Homo sapiens: one gene and its partner. The protein of the gene in region 2 interacts with the protein of the main gene of each other region in a biochemical or structural test. Each region holds a gene or a part of one and is shown on either strand. Other genes may lie near its edges.

Region 1 (3,155 bases), on a different chromosome or scaffold from region 2:
AGACCAACCTAGGCAACACAGCAAGACCGCATCTCTACGAAAAATGAAAATATTAGCTAGGCGTCATACCAAACGCCTGTAGTTCCAGCTACTTGGGAGGCTGAGGCAGGAGGATCCCTTGAGCCCAGGAGTTCAAGGCTGCAGTGAGCTGTGATCCTGCCACTACACTCCAGACTGGGTGAAAGAGCAAGACTCCAACTCATTAAAAAAAAAAAAAAAAAAAAAGAGGAAAGAAGCTGGGAGAGTGGTAGAGTGGGGGCAGAGAATCATCTTATGAGCCCTTTCCCAAATCAGAAACTGAGGCCTGAGGTAAGCAAATGGACTTGCCCAAGGCTACACAAAGTGAGGCTGCTTCTGGCCTCCCCTAGGGTGGTGAAGGGCAGGGTGGGATGGGGAGGAAGTGGCCTCCTAAGGGGCATGGGGAGGGAGGCTGGAGGGGGCAGAGATCATCCTGGCTGCGGGCCTGAGGATGAGTGAGCAGGCGCAATATGCAGGGTGGGAAGGAAGATGAAGGGAAGGTGGATTCCTGGGAGGAGGCAGGGGTTCTCAGCAGAGGACCAAATCTTCCTGGAGGGGCACCGGGGGCCGAGCACACCTCCATCCCCATCAGAACAGGCCTTCAAATCACTCCAGAGATCTTAGCATTTATAAAAACTGGCAGATTTATTCTGCAGGGGCCCATTTTCAAGAAGCTAAAGGTGAAGGTGGGAGGGGAGAAGTTTCCTCCCCTTCTCCTTTCTCCCTCATCTTATTTCCTCCAAGGGGTAAAAAAAATGGCCTGGACCCCAAAACCTACCCAAATAAAAAATCAAAAAACTGAGGTTCCAAAAAGTTACAGCATCTTATTTCCTCATAGAAAAGGGGAAGGAGCCAGAGGGAAGGGGAGTCCCTGGGGTGGGGGGATATCTCACCCCCAGCCCGGTGAGACATCCCCTCCCCTTAAATAGCTGCCCCAAATGGGGCAAGCCCAGGGCTATAGCATTTAAAAACTCCCACATCCCATTTTATCAAAACCAAAGAGAAAAAAAAATTTCCCTTTTCCCCCAAAACCCAAATATATATATATTTTTTTTTCTTAAAAAAACCAAAACTTTGAAGGCATTAAGCGTTAAAGTGAATCTAGAACAAGGGAATGTGAAATTCCCTCCTTCCTTCCCCCTTCCTGTGGGGTTCATTGGTGCATCCCCAGCAGAGGGACCGGCCCCAAGGGGATGGCAGAGGGGAAGGACCAAAGGGAGAAAAGGGCGGGGGCCTCCCCAGCCAATCAGCAGCCAGTGTGGGTGTGAGCAGGGAAGCCACACCCCCTTGGAGTTTTCCAAGTGGGATGGGGAGTGGGAACGATGCATTCCTGTGTAGTCTTCAGCCAATTCCAAGTCAAGTAGAGGCAGGGAAAGCAGGGTGACAGGCCGGGTGTGCGGAAAGGAGAAGCGGGTCTTCTGGGTCCCTGTGGTCAGGGAGAACCCCGCTTCCTCAGCTCCTGGACGAAGGCTGGAAGGAAACAAGGAGCAGAGGTCAGGGGCAGAGTCTCTGCCTCCTCCCTTCCAAAACAGGGCTCTTGCCCAGGGACATGATGCCTCCAAAATAAGTAAATGTTTAAGAACAAAACCAAAGCAAACCACCTCACCTTCAATGATTTCCTCTTTCACTTTCTGCAATTCCTTCTTCACCTCTTCCAGAAGCTCCTAAAATTAATGGGGTAAAACTAATCAGGAGGGGGTACCGGGACTTGCAGGAATGAATCCCCCTTCTTTTATTTTTTGAGAAGGAACCTTGCTCTGTTGCCCAGGCTAGGGTGCAATGGCATGATCACAGCTCATTGCAGCCTCAACTTCCCAGGCTCAGGTAATCCTCCTGCCTTAGCCTCCCAAGTAGCTGGGACCACAGTCACCTGCCGCCACAATCAGGTAACTTTTTCTTTTTCTTTTTTTTTTTGAAACAGAGTCTCCCTGTCACCCAGACTGCAGTGCAGTGGCCCAATCTCGGCTGACTGCAATCTCTGGCTCCCGGGTTCAAGCGATTCTCCTGCCTCAGCCGCCCAAATAACTGGATTACAGGTGCCCCCCACAAGGCCCAGCTAATTTTTGTATTTTTAGTAGAGACAGGGTTTCGCCATGTTGGCCAGGCTGGTCTCGAACTTTTGACTTCACGTGATCCGTCCCCATCAGCCTTCCAAACTGCTGGGATTATGGCTGTGAGCCACCATTCCCAGCCTAATTTTTGTATTTTTAGTAGCGATGGGTTTCACCATGTTGGCCAGGCTGGTCTTGAACCCCTGACCTCAGGTGATCCACCCACCTCGGCCTCCCAAAGTGCTGGGATTACAGGCATGAGCCACCGCACCTGGCCTTCTCAGGTAACTTTTAAAAGTTATTTTTAGAGATGGGGGTCTCCCGATGTTGCCCCAGGCTGGTCTCAAACTCCTGGCCTCAAGCAATGCTCCCACCTCAGCCTCGCAATGTGCTGAAATTACACACATGAGCCACCGTGCCCTGCCAGAGTCCCCTCTTTCTTGTTGATGGAAAAGCCAGGGGTAGTAGGTTTGAGACCTACCCCTACATCGACACCATGACATCGCTGTCAAGGTCGCAGAGTGACTGGAGGATTCTAGGGGAGAATTCTGGATCCTTGGAGCCGGAAAAGTACTGGAGAACATCCAGTACCAAGGTTGGCAAGCGCATTCCAGCCTCCTGCCAACTCCAATTGGTGATGGACAGCTGGGTCAATGTGCGGAAAGAATTCAAGGCACTCATCTGGAATGAGCGCGGTGATAGATTAATAATGTCTGTCACAGGTGCCAGAAAAGGGGGTGTGGAGTCTCGGTCATCCTTGACCCAATCCAGTTTCTCCATTTGTCAGATTGGAAACCTGAGGTTTCTGAGATGTTATCTAGGATCATACGGCATGCCAGTGGCAGGGGCCAGACCTAGATCTCTCTTGCTGTGGTCCCCAACTTCCCCCCCAAGTTACCTGTTTCACCCTCTGTAGGTCCGAGTAATCACTGGAGCTGGGCGTGCAGGGTTGGGTCTCGGAAGTGGTCACCGAAGAAGACGACTTCATCCTGGGGGAGTTGGTGTGGTTTGGGACAGCAATGAGATTAGAGAGAGGACCTGCTTCCCCGCCTCCTATTCCAGGGGTCACATTGAGCTCTGCCTTAT
Region 2 (3,750 bases):
ATGTAAAACATCTAGTAAGCCCTAGGAAGCGTTATTACTTATTAATTAATGGTAATCTTCTCCAGGAATTCTCTTGTGCCATTTAAAAAAAATCCCGTGATTTTACGTCAGGGAATGGTATCTTTGTACTTTTTTTACTGTTCTTCTTTTCCCCTTTTAGCATTACTCCCGCTTCCTCGCTCCCAGGAAACGGCTGGAGTTCCGGTGTGTTTGGGTTTTGCTGAGATTTACAATTCGGCAAGCGGCACAAGCCGGTTGGGCTTGGAGATCAGGTCACCCACTTTCGAGGTGTTCCATGTATGAAATTGACCTGTAAGCACTTGGAGCAATTATGGCCGGGACAAACACGTCTTTGGATGATGGAGTTTGCATTTGCTGGATGTGTGAATCTATGTGTATTCCAACTGGTGGGCAGGGAATATAGGGCTACGAATCGGCACACTCATCTTGCAGGCATTATTTTTCCTTCCCAGCCACAACCTGCTAGACACCTTTATTATTATTATTTTTTCCGGTCACCTCTAAGATGGCTTATAAGGTGACTGCGTTAACTTTGAACCCAGGAAATTCTCTTTCACACTTGACTGCCCTGCCGTTCCCCTCCCCGCCAAGCTCCCCTCACCAGTCCCAGGGAAATCGGATCTCTTTGTCTTCCCAGTGTTAAAATGCCTGAGTCCCACAAACTTTCCGAGATCAAGTCCGCCCTCTTGTCCGGGCTGCGTCCCAGCGCCTCCGGCCCTCCGGGCTTCGGCCGAGTCCGCCCTGCGCCGAGCCTGCGGCTGGAGCCCTGCCCGCACCGGGGATGGGCTCCGCGCCCGGGACGCTCAGGCTGGGCGCCCGGCGCGGGGAGTTCTCGGAGCGGGCTTCTCGGCGCTGGGGCTTCCCCTCTGCCTAGGAACTTGCAGTTGTCGGCCTGGGGTCACGCTTTGGGGCCCCTGGGGCCGACTCCCGGGCTAGGAAGCCCGCGGGACGCCGCGACTGCCTTTTGTCCCACAGGCCTGGGCGTCCGGGGTGTCAGCGGGGGAGGCCAGGCGCCCGCGGCGGGGAGGGCCTGGGGTCTAACTCGGCAGAAAAAGGTCGCGGGGGAAGCGTTTCCATTTTCTGGGGATTGAAGGAGGAAGTAGATTCCGACCTAGCTGCATTCCTTTGGAGACCTGAAGGACGACTTCAGCCCACCAAACCTTCGCGGACCCAGAGCCGCGCCATTCAAATGCAGATTCAGGGGCTCCCAGAAGGCTATGGAAAAGCTAAAGGGATGCCTCTGGGAAGCTTTCTCATTAGGCCCCAGCCTTTTTTTTTTTTTTTTTTTTTTAGCTAAGCTAACGTTTCCCTTTCTTGGCAGGGAGCTTTCCCCAATTCCTTGCACAGCGCCTGTGGCTGGCCGTAACTAACCTCGGCATCACAAGCCTCGCCCTGCCCCTCGGAGCCGCGCTAGACCCCGCTGGGCGCCTTCTCGTCTCCCAGCACGGACCTGGTGTTCGCAGGGACTGGGGCTCTTTGGGTCCGGGCGGGACTGCGTGGCCGAGCCCGCGGTCCCAGAGCCGGCAGCCGGGGAAAGTGGGCTCGAGTTTCCGCGCCCGAGAAATGAGCGCCGGCGCCGGCGGGCGGGGCCGGGGCGGAGGGATCTCCTGCGCTCGGGGAGCGTGAGGCGCCGGCGCCGAGCTGGGCGGCCGGGCGCGGGGAGAGGGCGCGGGAGCGGCTCGTGCGGCAGGTACCATGCGGACGCGCGAGCCCGGCGAGGGCCCCGGCAGGCCCGGTCCCTGCTCGGGGGCGCGCTGAGACGGCGGGTGAGCTCCACGAGAGCGCCGTCGCCACTTCGGGCCAACTTTGCGGTTAGTTCGCTGGGGCGCGGGCCGGCGGGCGGGGGCGAGAGCGTGCAGCGCGCTGCGGTGCGGACTCTGTGGGTGTCCGCCCGGTCCCCGGCTCGGGCTCCGGCGCTGCCGAAAACGGATGAGCGCGCGACTTCCCGGAGGGTGGAGTGACTCGGTCCTTCCCAGTTGGGAAATTCAGCACTGGCTAGGGGGGTCCCGGCGGCGGAGCGGGAAAAGGAGGCGACCGCGCGGGACCGATCCGGGGCCATTGCTGGGGTCCGATCCTTTCTGACACGCCGCCTTCCCTCCGGGAGCTCGCCGGGCTGCGCCGGCCTCGCGGTCTCCTGGGGCATCCCGCCGTCTGCGAAAGACCCGCTCGCTGAGCGGTGCACGCGGGAGGCCTGCGCGGGGCTGCCGGGTCCCTGGGTCTCTGGGTGTTTGCGCCCTGCAGGAGCGCTGCCCGGAGGTGCAGATGCAACCGGTGGACTGCGGAGTGAAGGGCTGCGAGGCTGCATTTCGGGGCTGAACATCTGCACAATGTGCGGTTTGTCAGTGTTTTCTGTCTTCTCTGGAGGAGGAACTTCTAAGATCTTTTTAAAAGAAAGAGTTTTTGGTCCTTCATTGCCTTTAAAAAAAAATGCTTTCTTTTAGAGAGCCAGCTTTCTGCTGTGTGTTAGATTTTTTTGTTCCCGCTGATGTGAATTGCAAGGCTTTGGAAACAAGGACGCAATTGTATGAGTTAGGAAAGTAAACTCATAAATATTTTCTATGCAGTTAAGTTTTTTTTTTTGTCTGAACTGTGGTTTCATTAAGTGGCTTTTGTTAAGCAATTCCCGGGTGCCTGATAGAGGCGATTTTTTAAAAGTGGATATTAACAGTGATTATTAGTATGAGAAAAGATTGAAAAGAAAATGACCTTCAGATATTCATTTCCTTTTCAAAAGCAGATTCTTAATGCTTCGTATATTCAGATACAGGTTTCGATAGTTTAAGAAGGTATCTGTGTGTGAGAACTAGGTAATGGTGATGTTTTTCACACTATTCTTAATGAGTTTGGTTATGCTGTCCAACACATCCAGTTGTTACAGGGACGTTTGAAAAGGTGTTTCTCCAGTTAATAGTTAATTGTGATATTTGTCTTTGTCTTTTTGTCTTAGGAAGACAGCTCTGATTCCACAGTTAGAATTATTCCTTTGTATTTAAGATGTAAAAATACTTAAAGCACTATGTAATTTTTTAAAACAACAATTGGTATAAGCCTTGAGTGATGCTAAACATGGCATTTAACAAGCTCAAGGTAAGGTTTGATTTGAATGAAGTTTGCATTTGTATAACCATTTTTTGAAAAATGAACACCTTAAATGAGCCAAATTCTTTGGCACTCTGGAAAGAAGTGTGGTTGTTAGAGGACTTTATAAAATCATTTCGGGCCACCTGTATATTCATTTGTCTCTTTTGAAGTATCCCCGTTGGGTTCTCATCATGTTAGTAGATCATTTAAATCCATGGTCCGGACAGGTGCCAACAGAAAAATGTTTAAAAATTATGGCCGGGCGTAGTGCCTCACGCCTGTAAACCCAGCCCTATGGGAGGTCGAGGCGGGCGGATCACCGGAGGTCGGGGGTCCGAGACCAACCTGACCAACATGGAGAAACCCCGTCTCTACTAAAAATACAAAATTAGCGGAGTGTGGTGGTGCATGCCTGTAATCCCAGCTACTTGGGAGGCTGAGGCAGGAGAATCGCTTCAACCCGGGAGGCGGAGGTTGTGGTAAGCCGAGATCGTGCCATTGCAATTCAGCCTGGGGAAAAAAAAGAAAAGAAAAAGAAGAGAAGAAAAATCTTTAAAAATTATGCACAAACTAATTCTGTTTTCATTCCCCTGATCATCCTCTACCTTTCCATTGCCTTTAGACTTTGCTTTGAGGTCCCTTTGAAGC

What was found.
Region 1: the proteins of FAT1 (region 2) and VASP form a complex in vitro, tested with the Homo sapiens proteins (one study listed by BioGRID).

Annotation. Positions count from the first base shown.
Region 1 is NC_000019.10:45,524,473-45,527,627, reverse strand, and holds the end of VASP (vasodilator-stimulated phosphoprotein), read right to left. Parts: intron 3,059-3,155; coding exon 2,968-3,058; intron 1,683-2,967; coding exon 1,625-1,682; intron 1,489-1,624; coding exon 1,451-1,488; 3' UTR 645-1,450; downstream 1-644. UniProt on the Homo sapiens protein: Ena/VASP proteins are actin-associated proteins involved in a range of processes dependent on cytoskeleton remodeling and cell polarity such as axon guidance, lamellipodial and filopodial dynamics, platelet activation and cell migration.
Region 2 is NC_000004.12:186,721,746-186,725,495, reverse strand, and holds the start of FAT1 (protocadherin Fat 1 isoform 1 precursor), read left to right. Parts: upstream 1-1,639; 5' UTR 1,640-1,832; intron 1,833-3,750.